3 linked regions of the Homo sapiens genome follow. The protein of the gene in region 3 interacts with the protein of the main gene of each other region in a biochemical or structural test. Each region holds a gene or a part of one and is shown on either strand. Other genes may lie near its edges. The genes, in order: PIMREG, WEE1 and BRSK2.

What was found.
Region 1: of the proteins of BRSK2 (region 3) and PIMREG, one has a biochemical effect on the other in vitro, tested with the Homo sapiens proteins (one study listed by BioGRID).
Region 2: of the proteins of BRSK2 (region 3) and WEE1, one has a biochemical effect on the other in vitro, tested with the Homo sapiens proteins (one study listed by BioGRID).

What each region holds. Positions count from the first base shown.
Region 1 is NC_000017.11:6,439,683-6,447,454, forward strand, and holds the start of PIMREG (protein PIMREG), read left to right. Parts: upstream 1-4,772; 5' UTR 4,773-4,806; intron 4,807-5,393; 5' UTR 5,394-5,428; coding exon 5,429-5,722; intron 5,723-5,728; exon of another isoform or gene 5,729-6,349; coding exon of another isoform or gene 6,350-6,505; intron 6,506-7,772. UniProt on the Homo sapiens protein: During mitosis, may play a role in the control of metaphase-to-anaphase transition.
Region 2 is NC_000011.10:9,583,646-9,590,565, reverse strand, and holds the end of WEE1 (wee1-like protein kinase), read right to left. Parts: intron 5,309-6,920; coding exon 5,213-5,308; intron 5,125-5,212; coding exon 5,039-5,124; intron 4,118-5,038; coding exon 3,947-4,117; intron 3,856-3,946; coding exon 3,710-3,855; intron 2,118-3,709; coding exon 1,964-2,117; 3' UTR 581-1,963; downstream 1-580. UniProt on the Homo sapiens protein: Acts as a negative regulator of entry into mitosis (G2 to M transition) by protecting the nucleus from cytoplasmically activated cyclin B1-complexed CDK1 before the onset of mitosis by mediating phosphorylation of CDK1 on 'Tyr-15'.
Region 3 is NC_000011.10:1,455,832-1,462,935, reverse strand, and holds the end of BRSK2 (serine/threonine-protein kinase BRSK2), read right to left. Parts: intron 6,589-7,104; coding exon 6,408-6,588; intron 6,339-6,407; coding exon 6,249-6,338; intron 5,982-6,248; coding exon of another isoform or gene 5,896-5,981; exon of another isoform or gene 5,887-5,895; intron 3,745-5,886; coding exon 3,697-3,744; intron 2,437-3,696; coding exon 2,213-2,436; 3' UTR 1,967-2,212; coding exon of another isoform or gene 1,947-1,966; 3' UTR 247-1,946; downstream 1-246. UniProt on the Homo sapiens protein: Serine/threonine-protein kinase that plays a key role in polarization of neurons and axonogenesis, cell cycle progress and insulin secretion. Phosphorylates CDK16, CDC25C, MAPT/TAU, PAK1 and WEE1.

The sequences.
Region 1 (7,772 bases), on a different chromosome or scaffold from region 3:
AGACTCCCAACCACTGGCCCACTAGCTCCTCACTTCAAACACCACACATTCAGGGAAGACTACCCTGACCTCCAGCTCCTGTCAATCTCCCCATGCCCCTTATACCCTGTCACTTCTCCCTAGCACTGCACATTCATGCTATTTTGCCCCATTGTAATTGTTTACAATGATGTGTTTAATGTCTATGTCTTCCATCAGATTGACAGTTTCAGGAGGTCAAGGAAACTAGTGGAATGTTTGCTCTTGGACAAAGAGCCCCTGGAGAGCAGGGCTGGAGCTCCTCGTTTGTCCCCCTCCCCAACGGAGGCAAGGGTGATGCTGGATTCCCTCCCCCTCCAAAAGCCTCTGCTAGGAAAAAGTGACTGGTTTTTCCTCCTTACCAAGAACAGAAGCCAATGTACCGACCTCTGGACTAGGAGCCTCCTTCCCCTGAGTACAGCCTCCTTCCCTCCCTCCAGCCACCACTCCACGCAAGGCAAAAGGGAAAGGCTTCCCATTCATAAGAAAATGTTTCTTCCCCCTTTACTTGTTGCCATGGAGACTGTTCTTCATTAACCTGGCCTGCCAGTTACCATTCTGAGTGAGGGAAGATGGTGGAAAGCTCCAAGCAGGGAGGGCCTCTTTATGCATGCATGCATTCATTGTTTCACCCCTGATCTTAACAAAGTTGTGTAATCTAAGGGTAAGAATTCAGGCTTTGAAGTCAGTCACTGGATTTAAGCTCCAGTTCTGACATCCCATACAATCTTGGACCAGATATTTCACCTGTCTGCATCTCACTTTTGTCATCTGTAATGGAAATAAAAAACGTACCTACTTCATAGAATTGCTTGAGGATTAAAAAAGAATAAAGAAAGTAAATGCCCTTAGCAGAGAGTCTGACACATGGTGAGGGCTCAAAAAATATAAGCTATTATTACGGATGCCTGTGACATGACAGGCACTGGGGAGGCTATTGTGATAAGACACTCCGGTTTGAGAGACTTGGCTTGTTTCTAAATGTTTCACCTTCATGGAGTCTTTCCCACACTTTCATCTTAGTTTTCATAGAAACAACAACTTTTTCTTTTCCCCCTTGGATTTCACTGGTAAAAGACATCAGTTAAATTCCTTAATTACAGTAACAAATGCAACTGTTGTAAACAGGTTTGAAAACAAGCATTTCTGACTCTTGATAAACAACTTCACTGTGAACAAAATGGACAGGCAAACTAGAGCAATATTTTGCAAACCACAACTCATACTCCATTAGTGACTCGTAGAATGAATATAGTGGGTTGTAACCATCAAGGTTTTTTTAAATGAAATAAAAAATAAAATCTCAGGTCATATCACACATAGTCAAGTATTGTTTCATGAAACTTTTGTTTCAGTTCACGTGTGTGTGTGCTGGGTCTCTTACAGTGAATGCTGGTTCCTTAAGCGTGGTGTTCCCTGAGCCAAGAAGATCACACACACACACACACACACACACACACACACACACACACACACACACATTCGTTGCCTGGTTAACTCATTCTCTAGGTCTCAGCTTTCAATAACATAAGTTTTGCATAGTTCTTTGATTAACTGATTATTGGTTATTTGATCCTTTCATGTCTATGTCTCCCCACACACTAGATTTGAGCTCCATGACAGTAAGGAATGTATCTGTTTTGTTGACCTTTGTGGCCCATTTTTTAGCACAGTGCTTAATGGATCACAGGCAAGAGGGAATATGGGGGAGGAGGAGGATTGAGGAGACCAGGGTGACTTCAGCTAGGGTGTGTTTATCTAAGATGCCTGCAGCATTCAAGAGGAGATGAGACCCAGGAGGTAGTTGGCTATACATGTCAGATGAGAGGCTCAAGCTGGGGGTGGAGGTGTTAGGGGCTGAGGAAGGCAGTGTGGTGTGGTGGTTAGGCACAGGGACCCTAGCCCTAGACTGATGAAGTTTGAACCCTTGGCCCTGGTGTAGACTAACTGAGTGAAATTTGGGCCCTACCAAATTCTGTATTCTCAGCTTCCTCATCAAGTGTAGGTACAATGAAGATGTCAGTCCGTTTTCTGTTGTTATATCTGAATACCACAGACTGCATAATTTATAAAGAAAAGACACTTAGCTCATGGTCTGGAGGATGGGAAGTTCAAGAGCATAGCACTGGCATCTGGTTGGCATCTGGTAAGGGCCTTCTTGCTGTGTTGTAACATGGCAGAAGGCATCGCATGGTGAGAGGGCAAAAGCGTGCCTGTCAGCTCGGGTCTCTCTTCCCCTTCTTTTAAAGCCACCAGTACCATCATGGGGGCCCCATCTGTTTGATCTTATCTAATGCTAATTACCTCCCAAAGGCCTCACCTCATCAACATACTGGACGTTGGGAATGGTAGGTGCAAGGAAGGAATAGGAGAGATTTGTTAAAAGACACAAAGTTACAGCTAAATAGGAGTAATAAGCTTAGTATTCTATAGCACTGTGGAATGACTAGAGTGAACAATAATATATAGTTTCGAATAACTAGAAGGAAGATATTGACTCTTACCAACACAGAAAAACGATAATGTTTGAGATGATGAATATGCCAATTACCCAGATCTGATCACTCTACATTATATGTATCAAAACATCACTATGTGCCCCATAAATGTTTAATTATTACTTGTCAATTTTAAAAAAAATTTTAAAGAAAATTACAAAGTAGCTCATACTTAGAAAATAATATATGTACAGGTATGTGTATACACACGCATTTATAAAGTGATACGTATAAAATTACTTACATATATGGTTTAAAGAATAATAAAGACTAGGCAAGGTGGCTCACGCTTGTAATCCCAGCACTCTGGGAGGTCAAGGCAGGAGGACTGCTTGAGCCCAGGAGGTTGAGACTGCAGTGAGCTATGATTGTACCACTGCACCTCAGCCTGGACAACAGAGCAAGATCCTGTCTAAAAGAAAAAAAATAAAAAAGAAGAAAGTAAACATCCATGTGGCCACCACCCAGCCTACAAAATGGAACATTATCTTTGAAGTCCTTTGAGCCCTTTCCTCATTACATCCTCTTCTCCTGCCACCCTTCCAAAAACGACGACTTATTTTATTTTGGTGTTTCAATTCCTTTGCTTTCCATAATAGCTTTGTCCACAAATGTATGTGCATATTCCTAAACCATATTGTTGAGCTTTTTTGCGTTTGAATTTATACAGTGTCATACTTTATGTTTGTCTGCATATTGCTTTTTTTTAATCTAACATATTTCTGAGATTGACTTAAGTTACACCATCTGGCTACAATTTGCTTATTTTTCAGTGCTGTATAATATTCTATAATTTGAATAAATAACAATTTATATGTCTTAAAAAATGCCACCGATAGCCAGGAACGGTGGCTCACGTCTGTAATCCCAGCAGTTTGGGAGGCTGAGGCGGGTGGATTGCCTAAGGTCAGGAGTTCGAGACCAGCCTGGCCAACATAGTGAAACCCCATCTCTACTAAAAATACAAAAAATTAGCTAGGCGTGGTGGCAGGCACCTGTAATCCCAGCTACTAGGGAGGCTGAGGCAGGAGAATCGCTTGAACCTGGGAGGCGGAGGTTGCAGTGAGCCGAGATCATGCCATTGCACTCCAGCCTGGGCAACAAGAGTGAAATTCCGTCTCAAAAACAAACAAAAAATGCCACCGATATATGAATTTGGGCATTACATTTCCAACATGTGAAATTTGAGGGACACATTCAAACCATAGCAGAGGATCAAGTAAGTTAATAAACTGCAACACCGGTACCTGTGCATACTAAGTGCCATATACACGTTAATCATTATCATCATCCTTTCCTTGGAAATCACTGAGGCCAAAGGAGTGGGTGAGACCACCCAGAAACGGAGAGGGCTGAAGACAGAGTCTCAAGAAGCCATCATCTCAGGCTCTTGTGCGGAGAAGTAACAAAGAAACCAGCCGGGGGAGTGGGCAGCACTGCTCTGAGGTCACCGAAAGGAGAAAGATGAGCTGGAGAGAGCTTTATAATGGCTGCATTTGTTTGGATGCTAAGGAGAAGAGAGGCAGGCATTCCGCTGGAGAGAGGGAGGGATGCGTGGGGCAAGGCGGGGGCGGGGAGCCGGTGTAGACGGGTGGAGGGCAGACCGGTACTCTGGTCTATCCCCGCTTCCGGGACGCGTTTTCTAGGGAGGGCGGAGCGTGGATGGCGAGTATGGGGAACTCAGAGAGGGACAGTGTCTTGTCACAGGAAGGGAGGGTCAGGAGGGAAATTTGAAAGAAAACGTCTCTGGGAACCCAGGGCTCTGCACTGCCAGTCCCTGGCTCCTTCTGACAAAACCACTGAGCAAGAAGGAAAAGCCAGACCCCTTGGCAGGATGAGAGGGGTCTCTGCCCGCTGCCGGGCCTGGGGCCTGGGGCCTGAGCCAGGAGGCCTAGGTCCCAGGACCTCCGCCTCCACCCCATGGGTCAGAGCAGCCTGAACCCTGTGCGCGCTCCAGGGAGGGGACCCGGTGTGCGATGCGCGGGGGCTGGGCTAGCAAGGGCAGTGGCGCGAGCGGGACGCAGGATACAAAGCCCGGAGCCACGAGGCTGGCGGCGGGGCGGGGGCCGGAGCGATGAATGGGCACGGCCGGGCCAATCCAAGCGCAGCATTTGCAGCCGCGAGAGAGGGAGCCAATCGGATCCCCGGGGCGGTGGCGGTGGCGGGGGCGGGGACGGAACCAATCAGCTGTGAGGACGGGGCCGGGGGCGGAGCCGCGCAGAGTTTCAAATCGGCTGCGGTGGGCGAGGAGCAGCTGTGCTGCGGCTGTGCTCGGCCTTAGTGGTGTCGGGTGAGTGCGGGCTGGGCACAAGTTTCGCCCTTGTTGCCCAGGCTGGAGTGCAATGGCGCGATCTGGACTCAAAACAATTTTTTTGTTCGGAGGGGAGGGCATCAGGTTCTGTTCACAGGGGAGGGCATCAGGTTCGGACACGCACGGCCTGTGGGGTCGTCTGGGTACCACAAGAAGTCGGATCGAAATCGGGGCGTCTGGTGGGAAGGCCGGGGTCTGGGCGGGTGCGCGTTTGGTCTGGGCGAGCTGGTGAAGAAGATGGTGATCGTGTCCTGGGCCCAGCGCTGAAGCTCGGCTACGGCGTGTCTTGACCCTGCCTCCCCTCCTCGCCTGAGCCAGAGAGAGGAAGGAGGTTGGGATGAAAAGACAGCTGTTTTGGAAACTTGAAGGGCGGGACATCAGAAATGCTGCTGACCCGAGGCCCCTCTTCCAGGAAGCATCCTCCTTCCTGCACCCACACTTACCAACTCGCCCGCCCCCGCCACCCCGCTGCATCCCGTCTCTTCCCCTGTGTCCAGGGTCTCTGTGGGGCCTGGGAATGGGTATGGGGAATGCCTTGCTGATCTGCCTTTCGCCCTCCTCCCCAGGGTCTAGTGGACAGAGAAGACTCTTGGCCAGGCAGATGGCTTCTCGGTGGCAGAACATGGGGACCTCCGTGCGCCGGAGATCTCTCCAGCACCAGGAGCAGCTGGAGGACAGCAAGGAGCTGCAGCCTGTGGTCAGCCATCAGGAGACCTCTGTAGGGGCCCTGGGGTCCCTGTGCAGACAGTTCCAAAGGAGGCTGCCCCTGAGAGCCGTCAACCTCAACCTCCGCGCAGGGCCCTCCTGGAAACGCCTGGAAACCCCAGAGCCAGGTCAGCAGGGCCTCCAGGCTGCAGCTCGCTCAGCTAAGAGTGCTTTGGGTGCCGTGTCCCAGGTAATACTGACAACACTAATCATCTTTTTTATGGAGTGTTTCCTTGGTGCCAGGCAGTTCCTGCCCTCAAAGAGCCTCAAGAATATAGACTTCATGAAAACAGGGACGTTGGTTAGTTCACTGCTGTTTCCCCACCACCCCAGATAGTTCCTGGCACATATAGGTGCTCAACAAATAGTTGAATGAGTGAATGAAAGCATGTCTTGGAGGAAACAGATGCTCACAATACCAGGTGATAAGAGCTGTACGTGATAGGAAATTGCAAAGCAAGTGACCAATAGTGAGGCTCACCAAATGCAAGCTTAGTCGGTGAAGGCTTCCCAGAGGAGGTGATTCCAGAGTTCACCCAGGGAAGCAAAGGTCAAGGGGTATTTAGGGTAGGGGAAATAGTGCAAGTCCAGGCCTAGAGCTGAGGGAAAGCAAGGTGTACTGCCCACTCAGCTGTGTATCCCTGAGGAGAGCCAGAATTGTAGTCTGGGTATGAACAGATGACAGAGAGCAAGGTAGAGCAGGGGGAAAGGATATGAAGGAGCTTAGAACTCTCCCAGGAATGATCAGGAGTCCGGAAGATTCTAAACAGTGGAAAGTCTGGTCTAATTAGCATATTAGAATTTGCCCTTTAGCTACATGATGGAGAAGGGAATAGAGGCAGAGATGCTCCTGATGGAGACTAAGGGTTTGGACTTGCAGGGGATAAACTTCAGGAGCTGCCGAGAAGGTCCAGTTAGAGGGGATTTGCTGTCAAATGAGAGCTGCTGTCAGGAAGACGTCCTTATATTGGATGTAAGTGTCTGTGGACCCTTCAAGGGATGCATCTTTAAACCCAGAGCTGGAGGTGTAGACGTGTCACTTAGAAAGGACAGAAGCCATTAGGATGAACAGACCTCCAGGGAGAGGATTGGGGGCTGCAGAGGCTTCTCCTCGGTGTCTCATTGGGAATTCTGAAGATGAAAGAATTCTCCAGAAAGTGGGTGGCTCTTTCTGGACCCTCTGCAGAGAGCTCTCTGAGCCAAATGTTAGTCCTTATTTGGAAGCACTTTTTGATTGTTTTCACCACCCTCAGGGATCAGAGAAATGAAATGAATTTGTCCAAGGTCACATAACTCATCAAATTTAACTTGGGCTTCGCTCCAAACACTGGGCTCTGGCTTGTCAAGGCAAAGACAGTCTAGCTGATGAAGAAGAGCCTTCACGGCTGTCACCCGGCTGGTGTGAAAGGCCCAAGAGTTGGGGCTTGGTCCTATGGGCAACAAGAAGCCACAGAAGAGTTTTGAGCAGTTGAGTGTCACGGTCAGAACTGCCCTTTAGAAGGATCACTATGGACCACTGTGGAGGGTGGATAGAGTGAGTGAGACCCGAGGCAAGAAGACAGGTGCTCTCTTGGTGTACAGGGGGTGCTGGGCGGGGTGGCCTGTTCTTTTGGGGCCCTCTCCTTCAGTCCTGGGGTCACCGTCTGTCTGGAAAGAGAGTTTGGACTTAGACAAACAGGCTCCAGGCACCAGGGGGGTCCTCCTGCGGCTGACTGCTGCTGTCATATCCAAGAGCTCTGAGCTGGGTCCCAGCCGTGGACTCATTCCATGAGGAGTCATTCACATCCTTCACCCTGGAGACTAACAATAGCCTGTATTTACAGGACACTTGCTGAGTGTAGGGGTTGCTTGTATGGTCTGGAGACCAAGGTAGCTCACCCTTGGTTTTTTTTTTTGTTGTTGTTTGTTTGTTTTCGAGACAGGGTCTCACTCTGTCGCCCAGGCTGGAGTGCCATGGTGCGATCTCGGCTCACTGCAACCTCCGCCTCCCGGGTTCAAGCGACTCTCATGCCTCAGCCACCCAAGTAGCTGGGATTACAGGCACCCGCCACCGCGCCTGGCTAATTTTTTTTTGCATTTTTAGTAGAAATGGGGTTACACCATGTTGGCCAGGCTGGTCTCAAAATCCTGACCTCAGGTGATCTGCCTGCCTCGGCCTCCCAAAGTACTGGGATTATAGGCGTGAGCCACCGCGCCCGGCCTAACTTTTGGTTTTGTCTGTGCTAACCTTTCCATTTGCC
Region 2 (6,920 bases), 8.1 Mb from region 3:
TCTAATCAACATCAGAAAACGATGCCATAGAAATAACATTATCACTTCAATTTGCACTCAATTCTTTTTTGTTTTTTGTAGAGATAGGGTCTCACTGTGTTGCCCAGGTTGGTCTCAAACTCCTGGCCCCAAGCAATCCTCCTGCCTTGGCCTCCCAAAGTGGTGGGGATTACAGGCGTGAGCCAAGACGCCTGGCCTCAAATCTTAAAACCCAGCCTAGTTTAGTGAGAATTAAAATCCTCCCCACTTTAAGGGCCAGGCGCCTGTAATCCCAGCACTTTGGGAGGCCAAGGCAGGCAGATCACCTGAGGTCAGGAGTTCGAGACCAGCCTGGCCAACTTAGTGAAACCCCGTCTCTACTAAAAATACAAAAAATTAGCTGGGTGTGGTGGTGCATGCCTGCAGTCCCAGCTACACAGGAGGCTGAGGCAGGAGAATCGCTTGATCCCAGGGGGCGGAGGTTGCATTGAGCCGAGATCGCGCCACTGTACTCCAGCCTGGGTAACAGAGCAAGACTCCATCTTAAAAACAAAAACAAAACCTCCCCACTTTAAAGTTTTCTGTGACTCAGTACAAATCAGAAAGTTATGAATCATATTATATTCACTTAATAATTTGAAGATATTTTAAATTACATCATGCTACATTTCTAGCAAGTCACATGCATAACATGCAATGTGATATTCATATTCAATCAAAATGTGCCCTCTGCTTTTATAATAGTACATTATACACACTATACATTTTATAGTATAGCAATAATAGAGATAAAATATTAGAAAACAGGCATCACAAGGATTTAGACAATTAAGGTAAGCTCAGAGTGACTTTTAATATGCCAATCAATGTTAATAAAACACAAGTCAAAGACAAGTGCAAACATGTTTTAGACCAAAATTAATGAGAAAACAAACAGACAATTTTTTTCAACATCTGTTAGCCAGTATTATTAGTCAAATGGCTAATCACAGATAAAATATATTTTGTGAAAAACTTGGAATGTCAGAAGTCATTCTGGCATTTCAAACAGCTATGTACAGTATCACGAAGATCGGTTTATATACACAAATATTGAAGAGAAAAACCGGGCAAAACATTTAAAAACAGACTAATAATACAATCAAGTATAAAACTTAGGGGGAGACATTTAAAAAGAGTCCGGGAAGGACATTACCAGAACAAGTTACAAAACCAGTAATTATTATACTACATTAATACAGCATTCCAAAGGAGGGAAAGGGTGCATTTTTCCAATGCACTAGCTTCAAAGTTCAAAGGAAAAAAAAAAAAAGGCAAATAGCTGCTTTTCATCAAAAGCAGCTATACATTTCACATAATTGTTTCAAAAAGAAGACCTATTAACAACAATGATTGTTTAATGCTACAAGTTTACAGCAAAGACAAAACTAAAATAGCAGCAAATTCACAAGGCAATACCTCCACAGAATCATCATCCCATGGTTCATGCAATGCCTACAAAGTGCTCCCAGTGGGATATACAAGTCTAATTCACAATTAAAAAAAAAAGAAATATAAGATGGACACACAGGTACATTGAAGGCTGAGTAGTAATGAGTCTTTTAGCATGTCCCTTTTCAAAGGGAGGGTATGTCTGTAATAAAGCCCTTGAGTACTTTTTACAGGTCACTACAGGGAAAGACACCTTTTATTACAATGCAACAGCAAACTATAAGCAGCACACCACCACAGTGGTTAACCCTGGAAAGGCTGGTGTAACATCCAACAGTGACACATCCTACAGAAGACAGACTGGTAAGATTAGATGAAAGCCTGACATAGCAATCATCAAAATACAGCTTTCAACTGTAATTCACAATAAAAGTCCTAATCAGTAAAACTACTGACACCAATCGAGAAAGTAATTGCAAACTGGATTCTATCAGTGATTTCAACCTAGCTTCCTCTTGTCACAGTGTTCAGGGGGAGGTGGGAAAGGAGTAGCTCAGTATATAGTAAGGCTGACAGAGCGGTTCATTTTCTTTCCAATAAGTCGAGATGTTCTATTACTCTGGGTGGTGGACCTAGTGGCCATCCGGTCAGTGAAGAGTGCTCTTTCCTCAGCTGCAGCTTTTGCCATCTGTGCTTTCTTGAGTTCTCTGACATAAAAATAGAAAACAAGGTATTATTCCTAGGAAGAGATTCTAAGAAACTAACACAAACTATATTGTCGATTGGGAGATATTTGCATGCCATCATTATTCTAAGATGTAATTGAAAAATAAAACAGGAAACTGAAGCTTCTATTAAAACAACTTAAATTTATGAAATTATTTTATTTTATGCTTTTTGAATTACAGTATCACACATACTTGAAAACAAGTAGTAAAGATGCTAGTAATGACTTTGGTTCTTATAAAATAATTTGAGCTGGATGTGGTGACTCACACCTGTAGTCTCAGCTACTCGGGAAGCTGAGGCTGGAGGATCGCTTGGGCCCAGGAGTTTGAGGCTGCAGTGAGCTATGATAGTGCCACTGCACTCCAGCCTGGGTGACAGAGCAAGACCCCATCTTTTTAAATAAATAATAATAAACAATTTCCAGACAAACCTATCCCCAATAAAAAAAAAATTAAAAATAAATAATAATTTCAAAAACTCCAATTTATATTGCGAATCTATCCTTACATAAGAGAGATGAAAGGAACACTTTATTTCCTATTTGTATGAACTATGATGGATATCAAACTAGTGGCAAGTAAACCTCTTAATATACAATTCTTATAATTTAAATATTAAATGTTAATATTAATTGTTAACATAACCTTTTCAAGTCAGTTTTATTAGGTTAAAAGCAAAATGGCTGCAATAAATCAAAAGAATTAGAAATGTGATCTGTGGTAACTTAATATTCTCCAATATTCTCTTTTTAATAACCTTTACCATTGCAACCAGCTTTTTGAAAATATCAAGTCATTAAGTCCAATATGAGAATCTTCATTCAGTATATAAAGATTTAGCCAGAAATTAAAAACATATATATGAGAATCATCTCCTAACCAAATTGACATTAATTTCATCCTTTCATAAAATAAGAACAGAATGTTTCAAGGACAACGTTAACTTTTGGTGAGAGTCTGGGAAGAAAAGATTGGTATAGGCTCGCTTAGCTTTTACTACCATTTATGGCTTGGGGACTATCACCACTTGCAAATATATGTTAGTCTCAACATTTTTAAAGTTCGTAATTTGAAAGTTTAGAAACAACACAAATTTAATAGGCCAAATACTAATTCATGGCAGAAGTCCCCAAGCTTTCACCGTATAACAACATATCGAACTACTGGAGCCGGGTGAGGTGGCTCACTCCTATAATCCCAGCACTTTGGGAGGCCAAGACAGGTGGATGGTTTGAGCCCAGGAGTTCAAGACCAGCCTGGGCAACATGGCAAAAACCCCATCTCTACAAAAAATATAAAAATTAGCTGGGTGTTGTGGCATGCATCTGTGGCTCAGCTACTCAGGAGGCTGACACGGGAGGATAGCTTGAGCCCAGGAGGTGGAGGTTGCAATGAGTCATGATAGCACCAGTGCACTCCAGCCTGATGACAGTGAGACCCTGTCTCAAAAAACAAAAAACACAAAAAACCACTACATCCTTTGTTGACAGAAAGCTTAAATCATCTCTCATTAAAATTTGAGAATTAAAGTGAATGAAAAAGCAAAAAGAAAACATAAAACCCTCACTTACTTTTGTAAAAGTGAATTTTTGAACTTTTCGGCATTCAATTCTATTCGTAATTGTTCTGCACTCTTTCTAGAAGCGGACAGCAATACTGAATGCTTTACCAGTGCCATTGCTGAAGGTCTTCTCTCTGGATCTGGATGAATCATAACCTTAAAAAGAAAAGTAAAATGAAGGTAAAGACATGCATTTAATAAAATATAGAACCATGTCAATAAAGGGCTTCATATATAAAATGCTCACTTTTAGCAACTCTGTAAATTCTTGGGAAAGCACTTGTGGTATCCGAGGTAATCTACCCTGTCTGATTTCATGCCATTGATCTCCATTTCTCGGAAGAGGTTCAGCACCAGCAGCACATACCACTGTGAGGGCAAGCGCAAAAATATCTGCTTTTGGTAGATGGGTATAATTCTGTAAAATTAAAACAATTTTTTAAAGGAATGTAAACATGGTCAAAATAAAACAAGATTACACCTCAAAGATGACTTAGGTGAAAAATAGGACTTAATCAAAGTGTCTAATACCACATTTAAGTTTGGGACCTATTCAGAGAATAAACTGCTAAATTTGAGGATGTTTATTTTTTAAATTACAAAGTAATACACACTCTTGGGGGAAAAATGCAAACACATAGATAAGAGTAAATGCCTCTTCTTTATCAACAGCCCAATTCAACTCTCAAAAGAAATCCCTCTACCTCTAGGCATTCATATGCAAACACAAAACACGTAGAAACACACTGACAAGTTACAAATACACATATACGTGATAAAGCAAACATATATATACACATATTTACAAAGAGCAATGGGATCAGACAATTACACTTTATATTTTTCTACTTATTCTATTTTCATTCAAAATTTTTATCAAGAAATACTGTCACACTCTTTTGAAACTATAGGCCATACTAATAACTATGTGCCATAATTTACTTAATCATTCTCTTATTAGTAAACACTTATTTACACTGTTCTCAACTTGTATTTGTATATGAATAGTTCTATAGGAAAAACTCCTAGAAGTGAAAATTATGAGTCAATGGGTACATGATTTTTAAATATTAATGCAATACTAATACTCTGATCTCCAAAAAGGATATGCCATTATAAAGTTCCACCAGTGGTGTATGAGAACATATTTTTTACGACAACTCCATTATAAATCTTTGCCTTCATGACTTTTTGCTTATTAAATGCCCTCAGATGACGGTTTAGATTTTATTTCCATTCTATTAGTTAACTTCAAAGTTTAATATATCTGAATTTATATTCTTCTATCAACTGCTAAGTGTTACAAAGCAAACTATGATTAAGGGAGAAGAAAAATTACCTCCTGTAAAACTTCATTTGCAAGAAAACGACTATCGCCCTCTTCAACTTGTGGACTGGAGATCCTTGTTACATGCCCAAGATCACCTAGAAGTATTGAAAAACTTACAGTGAAGAGCAAAAACAAAACAGCCTTCTCTTTATCTGAAGGTAATAATCTGATTACCTTTCTTACCTATTTTAAACATAACTTTGTTGGATGCCCAATCATCTTCGTCTCCTTCTTCAGAGGCAGCATTTGGGATTGAGGTTCGAGATATGAAAATATTACCTGTCAAACAGTTAATTATGTAAGCCAAACTAATAATAATAAAACCAGAGTTCATAAACAAGATCATATACCAGAATCATCCATAATGCTTTTTAAAATGCCGATTCTCAAGTTCTAGCCCAAACCCATGGAATAAGCATCTCAGGGGACAGAAACCAGGGTTATAGTTGCTGGGAATTTTTTTTGTTTTTTTTTGAGACAGTGTGCTCTGTCACCCAAGCTGGAGTGCAGTGGCATGATCTTGGCTCACTGCAACAAGGTTCAAGCAATTCTCATGCTTCATTCAACCTCCTGAGTAGCTGGGACTACAGGCACATGCCACATCTAGCTAACTTTTATATTTTTAGTAGAGACGGGGTTTCACTATGTTGGCCAGGCTGATCAAACTCCTGGCCTCAAGTGATCCTCCAGCTTCAGCCTCCCAAAGTGCTGGGATTACAGGCATGAGCCACCACTCTGGGCCTCTGGGAATATATTTTCCAGCCTAGCACTGATCCTAAACACTTTAAACTGGATGAGGCCCTTGTCTTCTAGCACATTACCCTTCAGCAAAAAAGGTAGTATCAGTAATTTGTGAAATTCTGTGAAAGCACAAGTTTTAATGTAGCGCTATAAGGCTGGTGTGAGCAGAATGAGTCATTTAGCCAGTGAGTCTGGCTGACCATATAGCATCTACCTTGCAATATGGCTTTGTGATTCACTATTTCCTATTGTATACACATTACCTTTTTTCTTCAAATTCAGGTAAGATCATAATTAACATGAGCTTTTAGTGGCAGATTCTATTTTAATAGTTTTATCAGTATAGTATTGGCCAGGTATGGTGGCTCAAGCCTGTAATCCCAGTGCTTTGAAAGGCTGAGGTAGGAGGATTACCTAAGACTTGGAATTCGAGACCAGCCTGGGCAAGATAGTGAGACCCTGTCTCTACAAAAAGAAAAAGAAAAAAATTAAAATAGCTGGGAATGGTGGTGCATGCCTGTAGTCCCAGCTACTTGTGAGTCTGAGGCAGGAGGTTCATTTGAGCCCAGGAATTCAAAGCTGCAGTGAGCTATAATTGCACCACTGCATTCTAGCCTGGGCAACAGAGTGAGACTATCTCTAAAAAATAAGGCCGGGAGTGGTGGCTCACACCTGTAATCCCAGCACTTTGGGAGGCCAAGGTGGGCGGATCACTTGAGGTCAGAAGTTCAAGACCAGCATGGCCAGCATGACAAAACCCCATCTCTACTAAAAATACAAAAATTAACTAGGCATGGTGGTGCACGCCTGTAATACCAGCCACTAGGGAGGCTGAGGCAGGAGAATCGCTTGAACCCAGGAGGCAGAGGTTGCAGTGAGCCGAGATCGCACTACTGCACTCCAGCCTGGGCAACAGAGCAAGACCCTGTCTCAAAAGAAAAAAAAAAGTATATATATATATATATATATATATATATATATATATATATATATGTGTGTGTGTGTGTGTGTGTGTGTGTGTGTGTGTGTGTGTGCGCGCGCGTGCACGCACACACACGCACAAATATTTAGTATTAAATTTATGTTACATTTACTGGAGTCATCTATACGTTTTACTTTCTTTATAGGACAACTTATTTTGTGATGGTAT
Region 3 (7,104 bases):
GCTCCGCCCAGGCCCTGGCCCTCAACGGGAGCCCGCCTCAGGCTGGGGCAGCCTCGGGGGATGGCCCCACACATCGGAAGTGACCTCTGACCTTGGCCGCCCGGAATCTCACCCTCTTCAGCTGGGCAGAGGGTAGCTGCATTCACACTGGCGCAGCCCAGGGGCTGCAAGTGGGGAACAAGAAGCTGTCCCGGGCTGTCACAGAGCCCTGCGCGCCCGCCCTGCCCAGATGAAGACCTGCGTCGCTGTCTTTGCGGAAGGGATTTATTGTTCCGGAGCTGCAGCTGCTCACAGTTATGACAGGGGTACACTGCAGGGGCTTGCCCATTTCCGTGGCGCCTGCTGGAGTCCGCGTGTGTCCGAAGCACAAAAGGGGAAGGCAAGCAAGAGGCAGTTTGCTTCGTGTCCTCGATCTCCGTGGAGAGCCCCTTCCCGCCTGTACCGCCTGGCGTTTGCTGTCCTAGGTGTTTGCTTTTGTTCTTATGTATAGAAATCCCAGCCTGTGGCAGAGGTCTAATGTTAACAGAAGCGTTAAAATCTATACACGAGGTGGGTGGGAGGCAGGGGCAGGCACCGAAGCAGACAGACGACTCCATGGCAGAGGCATGCATCAGACCCGCCGTCCCCCACGGCCGCCGCACCCGGGCTGTGCCCGCCTGGGAGGGCTGGGCACATGGGCGGAAGGGAACACAGAAGCTGGAGCTGGGGTGAAGCACGGCGGCGGGCACTGGGCAGGGTGGGCCTGCAGCCCTCTGAGGGCTGCGCCCTGGGCCTCGCTCTGCACAGAACGCCCTGCAGAGGAGCGCCACCGACTCTTTGTCCTTTTTTTTCAATTTTTTCATTTTAATAAGAAAAGCCTCACAGTGCCCCTGCCGTCCTGTGTGTGGGGAGGGCCAGCTGAGGGCCCTCCTCCTACCCCTTCACCTTTGGACACAAAACCAAGATTGCCCCAGCCTGACAGAGGGGCGCTGGCGCTGCCGCCCGCTACAAGACACCGCCCCTCTGCCCCGAGCCCCCCCAGAGGTGGAGCTGCTTCTCCACAGAGAGACGGAACCCATGACAGAGCGAGCCGCACCGTCTTTAGATGTGTGTGTAGAAAGAAGCAGGAGCAAGGGACTAAAACACAAAACCTGGCCCTGCCCCAGCGGCGCCCCCACCCCCACACCCTTTTCCAAAAACCACCAAGAAAAAAAAGTTTATAAAAATATCTTGCAGGAATTCTTTAAAGTTTACAGTAGCTCGCCAGCCCCCCCGCGCCCCACCAGCTCTGTCCTCAGAGGGCGCCCTGGCCCCAGCCCCCCCACTGCCTGAGACACGCAGACGGCAGGGGATGTGGCCGCCGCCCTTCCCTGAACAGAGGTGCGGAGAATCCATAAATTAAAACGGCAAATAAATAACACTGATCCCAGCCCAGCGGCCTGGCCTGCTGGGAAGGCTCTGGTGCCGCAGGGTGTCTCTGTTTCCACCTCAGCCAGAGAGGAGCGCCAGAGCCCACAGCCGCCCCAGATGAGGCAAGGGAGGCGCGGGTGAGACGAGAGGACGGGAGGCAGCCTGAGGAGGCCAAGACTACACGGAGGCGGCGCAGCCAGGGAGGCGGGGCACGGGCCTGCGAGGAGGCCTCCAGGTGCGGCGTGGAGGCGGTGGACGGGGCCTGTTCCTGTGGCTACGTTGCCCACCAGGGGTCCTGGCCCCAGAAGGCCACCAGGCAGGCTGTTCTTGCTGAGGGGTCAGGTGACCGGGAGTCCGGGTCGGCCGGGCTGGAGGAGGCTCCCCCGAGCCTGGCCTTCCTCCCACGGGCCGTGCGGAGCTGAGGCGAGGAGCTGCCGCGGGGTGGACGGGGCGCTGGGCTGGGCCTCACTGCCCGGCAGCAACAGCAGGAGCGGAGGGAGGGCGGGTCCGCAGCAGCTGCCTTCGGTCACAGAGGATGGCCTCGTGGAGGTGACATGTTAACTTTTCGGGATAATTCCTGGTATCAGAGTGGAAACAAGCGATGCTGTCAGAGACAGGCAGAGGCAGAGACAGAGAGAAAAGAGAGCGGGCGCGGGTGGCGCAGCCCACAGGCCGGCCCCAACGCCCCTTTCCTTTCCTCCCAGGCTCTGAGAACAGTCTGGACGGACGGGCGGCGCGGCCGCGGGTCCACTCGGGGCAGGGCGGGCGGCGGGCGGCGAGGCAGCCGCTGTCAGTGCTGTGCTGGGGGGGGGGGCTAGTGTGTCTAAGGCTGCTCGCGGCGGGCGGTGGGCGGGCCCATCTTGGCCGTGTCCTTGCCCGTTGGGTACTCGGCGTCCCCTCCGGGGCCAGGGCCAGCGGCCGCGGAGTCACCGAGTGGGCCGTGGGCACTCCGCTTGGCGGGCGTGCTGGGGGCCTGGGCCGCCTGCCCGTTCTTCTCGTCTGAAAAAAGTTGTTTAATTACGTCAAAGAAGTTACTCAATGGGCTGCCTGGGTACACAGAACAGAGACAAAAAAAAAAAAAAAAAGGAAAAAAGAAAAAAAAGGGGGAGAGAAAGAGGAGGGGAGGGAAGGAGAGAGAAAGAGAACAAACAAACAAATGAACGAAGAGGCCTCGACGAGGGAAAGAACCCAGAGATGAGGCTGAGATGGGGCCGAGCGGGGACCGGTGGGCGGCAAGCAGGGTGGGCAGGCGGCGGCCGGCAGGGGCCCTGTACGCTGGGGGCTGTGCGGTGGGGAAGCTGTGCGCCGTGGGGCCAGGAACTTAGGACCCCAGCGCCTCCGAGCTGTTGCGCAGGACCCAGTGCTCCTTTGGCGAAGCGAGGCTCGGGGCAGGTGGTGAGACCCCTCCCTCCCCACCAAGGCCTGGCCCGGAAGGCCCTGCCCCACCCCCCTTCCCTCCCCACCTTGCAGCCGTGAGGGCCGACCCACCCCAACGCCGGAGATGACAGCGTAAAGACAAGGGCCTGCTGGGAGCTCTGAAGCCTCGCAGGACCCTGGGGGCAGCTGCTGGCCCCACTGCATGAGGCCCAGTGGATGACAGGGAGAGGGTGTGCCCACCACACCTCCCCAGAGAGGCCTGAAGCCCGACCCCTGGCCAGCTTGGACACAGTTTAGCAGCAGACAGACAGATGAACAGATGGGTGGACAAGCATGGAGGGGTGGATGTGGGAGGCAGGCTGGGGGGCTGGGGGCAAGCAGCTAGAGTCATGTCCCGGGTCCCTGGGATGGGGGCAGTCCTGAGAAGAGGGGCGGAAATGGGGAGCCCACCCTTCTTGGGGCCCTGTGCTCACTGCCCAGGTGTGTCGATGGAGGCCCCTCAATCCCACTTCCTAAGCCTAACCCCCACCTGAGCCCTGAGCTGTGGGCCCCTCCGCTCCCTGCCAGGCACAGCCTCCAGTGGACAGAGGGATGGGCACCGGCCCCTCCCCTAGGCCACAGCCTGCACCAGTGGGACCAGCGGGACCCTCACTGGCTTCAGGCCTTGGGAGCCCCTTCTTGGGCCTGCCCTGATCCTAGGGCCTGGCAGAGGTGAGTCTGGCCAGGAACCCCGCCTGGGCTTGCTGTGGTAGGGGAGCGACCTGGGCTGCTCCTGGTAGAGGATGGGGCCGGGGACATCTGGGCTGCTGGGTGCCTACATCTACACAGGGAGGCCGGGACAACCCGGGCGGCAGGTGGCGGCCACAGCGGGCTGAGGGTGAGCGGTGAAGTGGCAGGTGGAGGTGCCAGGTGAGCGTGGGGGATTCTTACCACATTTGGAAAGCCGCCCCGTCATCATTTCCATACAGTTAGTGGTGTCTGGAGTACAGAATGGAGAGAGGAGGGAGGGAGTGAGTGAAAGGCTGTCCTGGGCCTTCTGGCTGGACGCCCACAGCCTCGATGGGGAGGGGGTGGAGCCAGGAGTGGGTAGGGCCCCAGAGGCATGGGTGGGGAATACTGGGGGGGCCAGAGCCAGAGGGGGCGGGGCTTATAAGGGGCAGTGCAGGGGCAGGGCCTGGAGTGAGGCGGGGCTGCGGAGGCAGGGAACAAGGCGGAGCCACCTGGGCAGCAGCCGGACCTCCAGCAGCCTGAGCCTGAGCCTGGATATGGCCGGTGCCCTGGGTGGGCCTAGCCCCTCCCCTGGGCTGACAACTCTGCCCTGGCCGTGGCCTGCATCCTCACTGTGCCACTCAGCAGCTCCAGGGCCCTGTGGCTTCCGGCTGCCCTTCAACTCAAGGCAGGCACCCTCTTCCTCGGCCCTCTTCCCTACTGCTGGGCCTGGGGATGTTGGTGCTGCCAGTCCAGGACTGGGGTGGGAGCAAGGCCCTGGGAGGGGCTACTCCCTCAAGGCCCTCACTGGCGCCTGCACAGGGTGGACACACGCCCTGGTCTGCCTGTGCCTGCTCACTGGGGGCTCTCAGCCTCCCCTCCCTCGGCCGCAGTCTCTGGGGGGGTGGGCAGTGTCTGAGGAGGCCCCCTGCTGGCTAGCCACCTTCCACACATCCTTGGAGCTGGGCTCACTGGACAAAAGCATCCAGTGTGGGAGGGGGGCAGGGCTGGGAAGGGCTGGGCGTAGCGAGATCACGGGGATAGGCTGGGCTCCCCAAGTCCACAGGGAGATAGATGGGGCCCAGAATAGACCCCCAAGAGCCTCTGCAGTGGGCTCCACTGAGGTCAGGGTCCGGGGCAGGAATGGAGAGGGGCTTGGAGTTGGCTCCAGGGGAGTGCTGCGTGCTGACAGGCGGTACCACACTTTAAGGGGCCAGGCTGGGGGAGCTTTGCCTACAGCCCACGCAGGAGCGCTCGACTGAGGCACCCAGATGGCTGCTCAGGTGCGGGGACACCCTGGGCAGTACCCCGGGGCCCGTTTCTGCTTGCCCTACCAGACAAGCCCTGTCCATCCCTGGCCTAGGTGGCTGCCCTGTCGTTCCCTGGCCTCGGTTTCCCTTCCTAAGATGAAGGCTTTCAAGGCTCAGAGAGCCAGAGGCTGCTGCCGGCCGACGGCATGGCCTCCGCTGTAGGGAAGCGCCACGTGTACCTGCGGGGCCGAGCACCTGGAACCCTGCTCCTCCTTACCCGCTGTGCCAGCCTGGCTCCCAAAATCAGGAGAAGGGGGCTACTCCTCCACCCACTGGGGCTTCGGTTAGGGCCAGGGCTGTTGGGGACCTCAGCCCCCAGCCCGCAGCAAGGTGAAGCACACTCTGGGGGGGCTCCCACAGGTGATGGCATGATGATGGAATGAGGATGTCATGGGGAGGGGCAGTGGGGCCCTCTTTGGCTTCCAGGACCCCACATGGAAACACAGGAGGTGACCCTAGCATGCCACGGAGCTGCTGAGATGCAGGCTGGGAGAGGGGACCCCCAGGGTCCAGCCGGGTGCTCCCCCACGACGCCCAGCGCCCCCACGCCGTACCAGCGTTCAGAGGCACACCCACACCCCCTTGCTGACAGACCAGGCCCATGCATGTGCCCAGTGCTCCGCCCTGCCCCCACCACACATGGGCCCAGGGGAGTGGGGGGAGCCCTCCCTGCCGTATGCCGAGTGGCACGGACCCTCGGGTCCTAGACCCTGGTGGTTCCAGGCTGGGGCAACCCTCCCCTGTGTGAGCCCATCAGGCTGTGGTGAAGCCCCCGCTCTGGCTGGGCTCAAGCCCCTCTGCCCTGCTGGAGGCATGACCCTGGGCTGTCAGGAAGTATGGAGAGATGAGAAGTCACAGCCCGTCAGGCAGCCCGCGGCCCTCCTAGGGTGCCATGGCGGGGAGTCCCGAGGGCAGGGCCTTGTCACTGCTCTCCCAGGTCCTGTGCAGGCTGCCCTAGCAGATGGGCCGCCCGGGGCATGCTTGGCCTGTCCAGGGCCGAGACCTGTGGGTGGGCATGGAGGGCCCTGCTCAGGGCCAGCCTGGCTCCGCCGAGGACCTGCCCGCAGCCCCTCCCCGCCCCAGCACAGGCCGGGCGCCTTACCTGCCAGCGTCAGAGGCTACTCTCGTAGCTGGTGGCCACCTTCTGGCCCTTAAGCCCAGCACCCCAGCTTAGTCCTGGCGCTGGTGGGGGGGGTTCTACGGTGGACAAGAGGCGCCTTTCAGTGTGGTGCGGCTGCGCCCTATGTCCCTGGCGTGCAGAGGCGAGGCGGGTGGTCCCGCCAGGCCAGGGAGGGGCTCTGCTCCCTGAGGGGTGCAGCCACAGCTCGGGGCAGGGAGGTGGGGGCGTCCGTCAAGAGGGGCCAGGAGGCTGCGCCCGGGTCCTCACGCCTCCCGTCCGCGCAGCACCAGCTGGCCACGCCCCACTCGCAGGCCGCAGGTTGGCCGGAGCTGAGCCCGCCTCACCTGACAAGTGCTGGGCCGCAGGCGGGTCGTGTGTGCTCAGCAGCTGGGCCTGGATGGTCTCCACCACCCTCTTGAAGCGACGGCTGGGGCCTAGGGGAGACAGGGGGTTATGCCCTGGACGGGCCTGGGCCCGGAGCCGCCCTGGGGGCGCCAGCTCACCTGAGAGCAGGGTGAAGGTGACGGAGTAGATGCCGTTCTCCTTCTGCGCCTCCCCACCCTCCGTGTAGGTGATATCAACCTGGAACTTGACCGGCTTCTGGAACACGGCTGGCCCCCCCGTGGCCTTGTACTCGGCCCGGAAGCTCGTTTGGGAGATGACGCTGTGGCTGAGACTGGGAATCTGTGGAGAGAGAGCAGCGTGAGCGTGGCTGGCCTGGCAGGTCCCACCCTGGCCCTCTGGGGAGGCAGCCCTGGGGCGAGCCAGCCCCACCGTGCACACATTGTGAGCACCCAGGCACCTCTGCTTCCGTGAGGGGCACAGTGCGGTTGGAGACGGCTGGAGCAGGGGGAGGGGCGTTTCCAGCCCCCACCCTCCAAAGCTTTGGTCCACTTAGCGGGCACAGCTAAGCCCCTGCCGGGCTTTTCTCAGGCAGCCACAGCACAGGATGACCAGGACCTTACAGAGGAGCCTTAAGGGCAAAGATGGAGGTGGAAGGTGACCCCTGCAGCCTGAGGTGGGGGTCCAGGGTGGAGCTGAGTGGGAGGTGGGGGGTCTGGGAGCTGCCACTGAGAGGGAGGTGCAAGGGCGGGGCTGGGGCTGTGCCCTCCTGCTGGGGCTTCCTGGGACTCCCACTGGTTGCGGGACCTATGGTGCTGGGCACTGGCTGGGTGGGCTTCACAGTACCGAGGGGGCAGC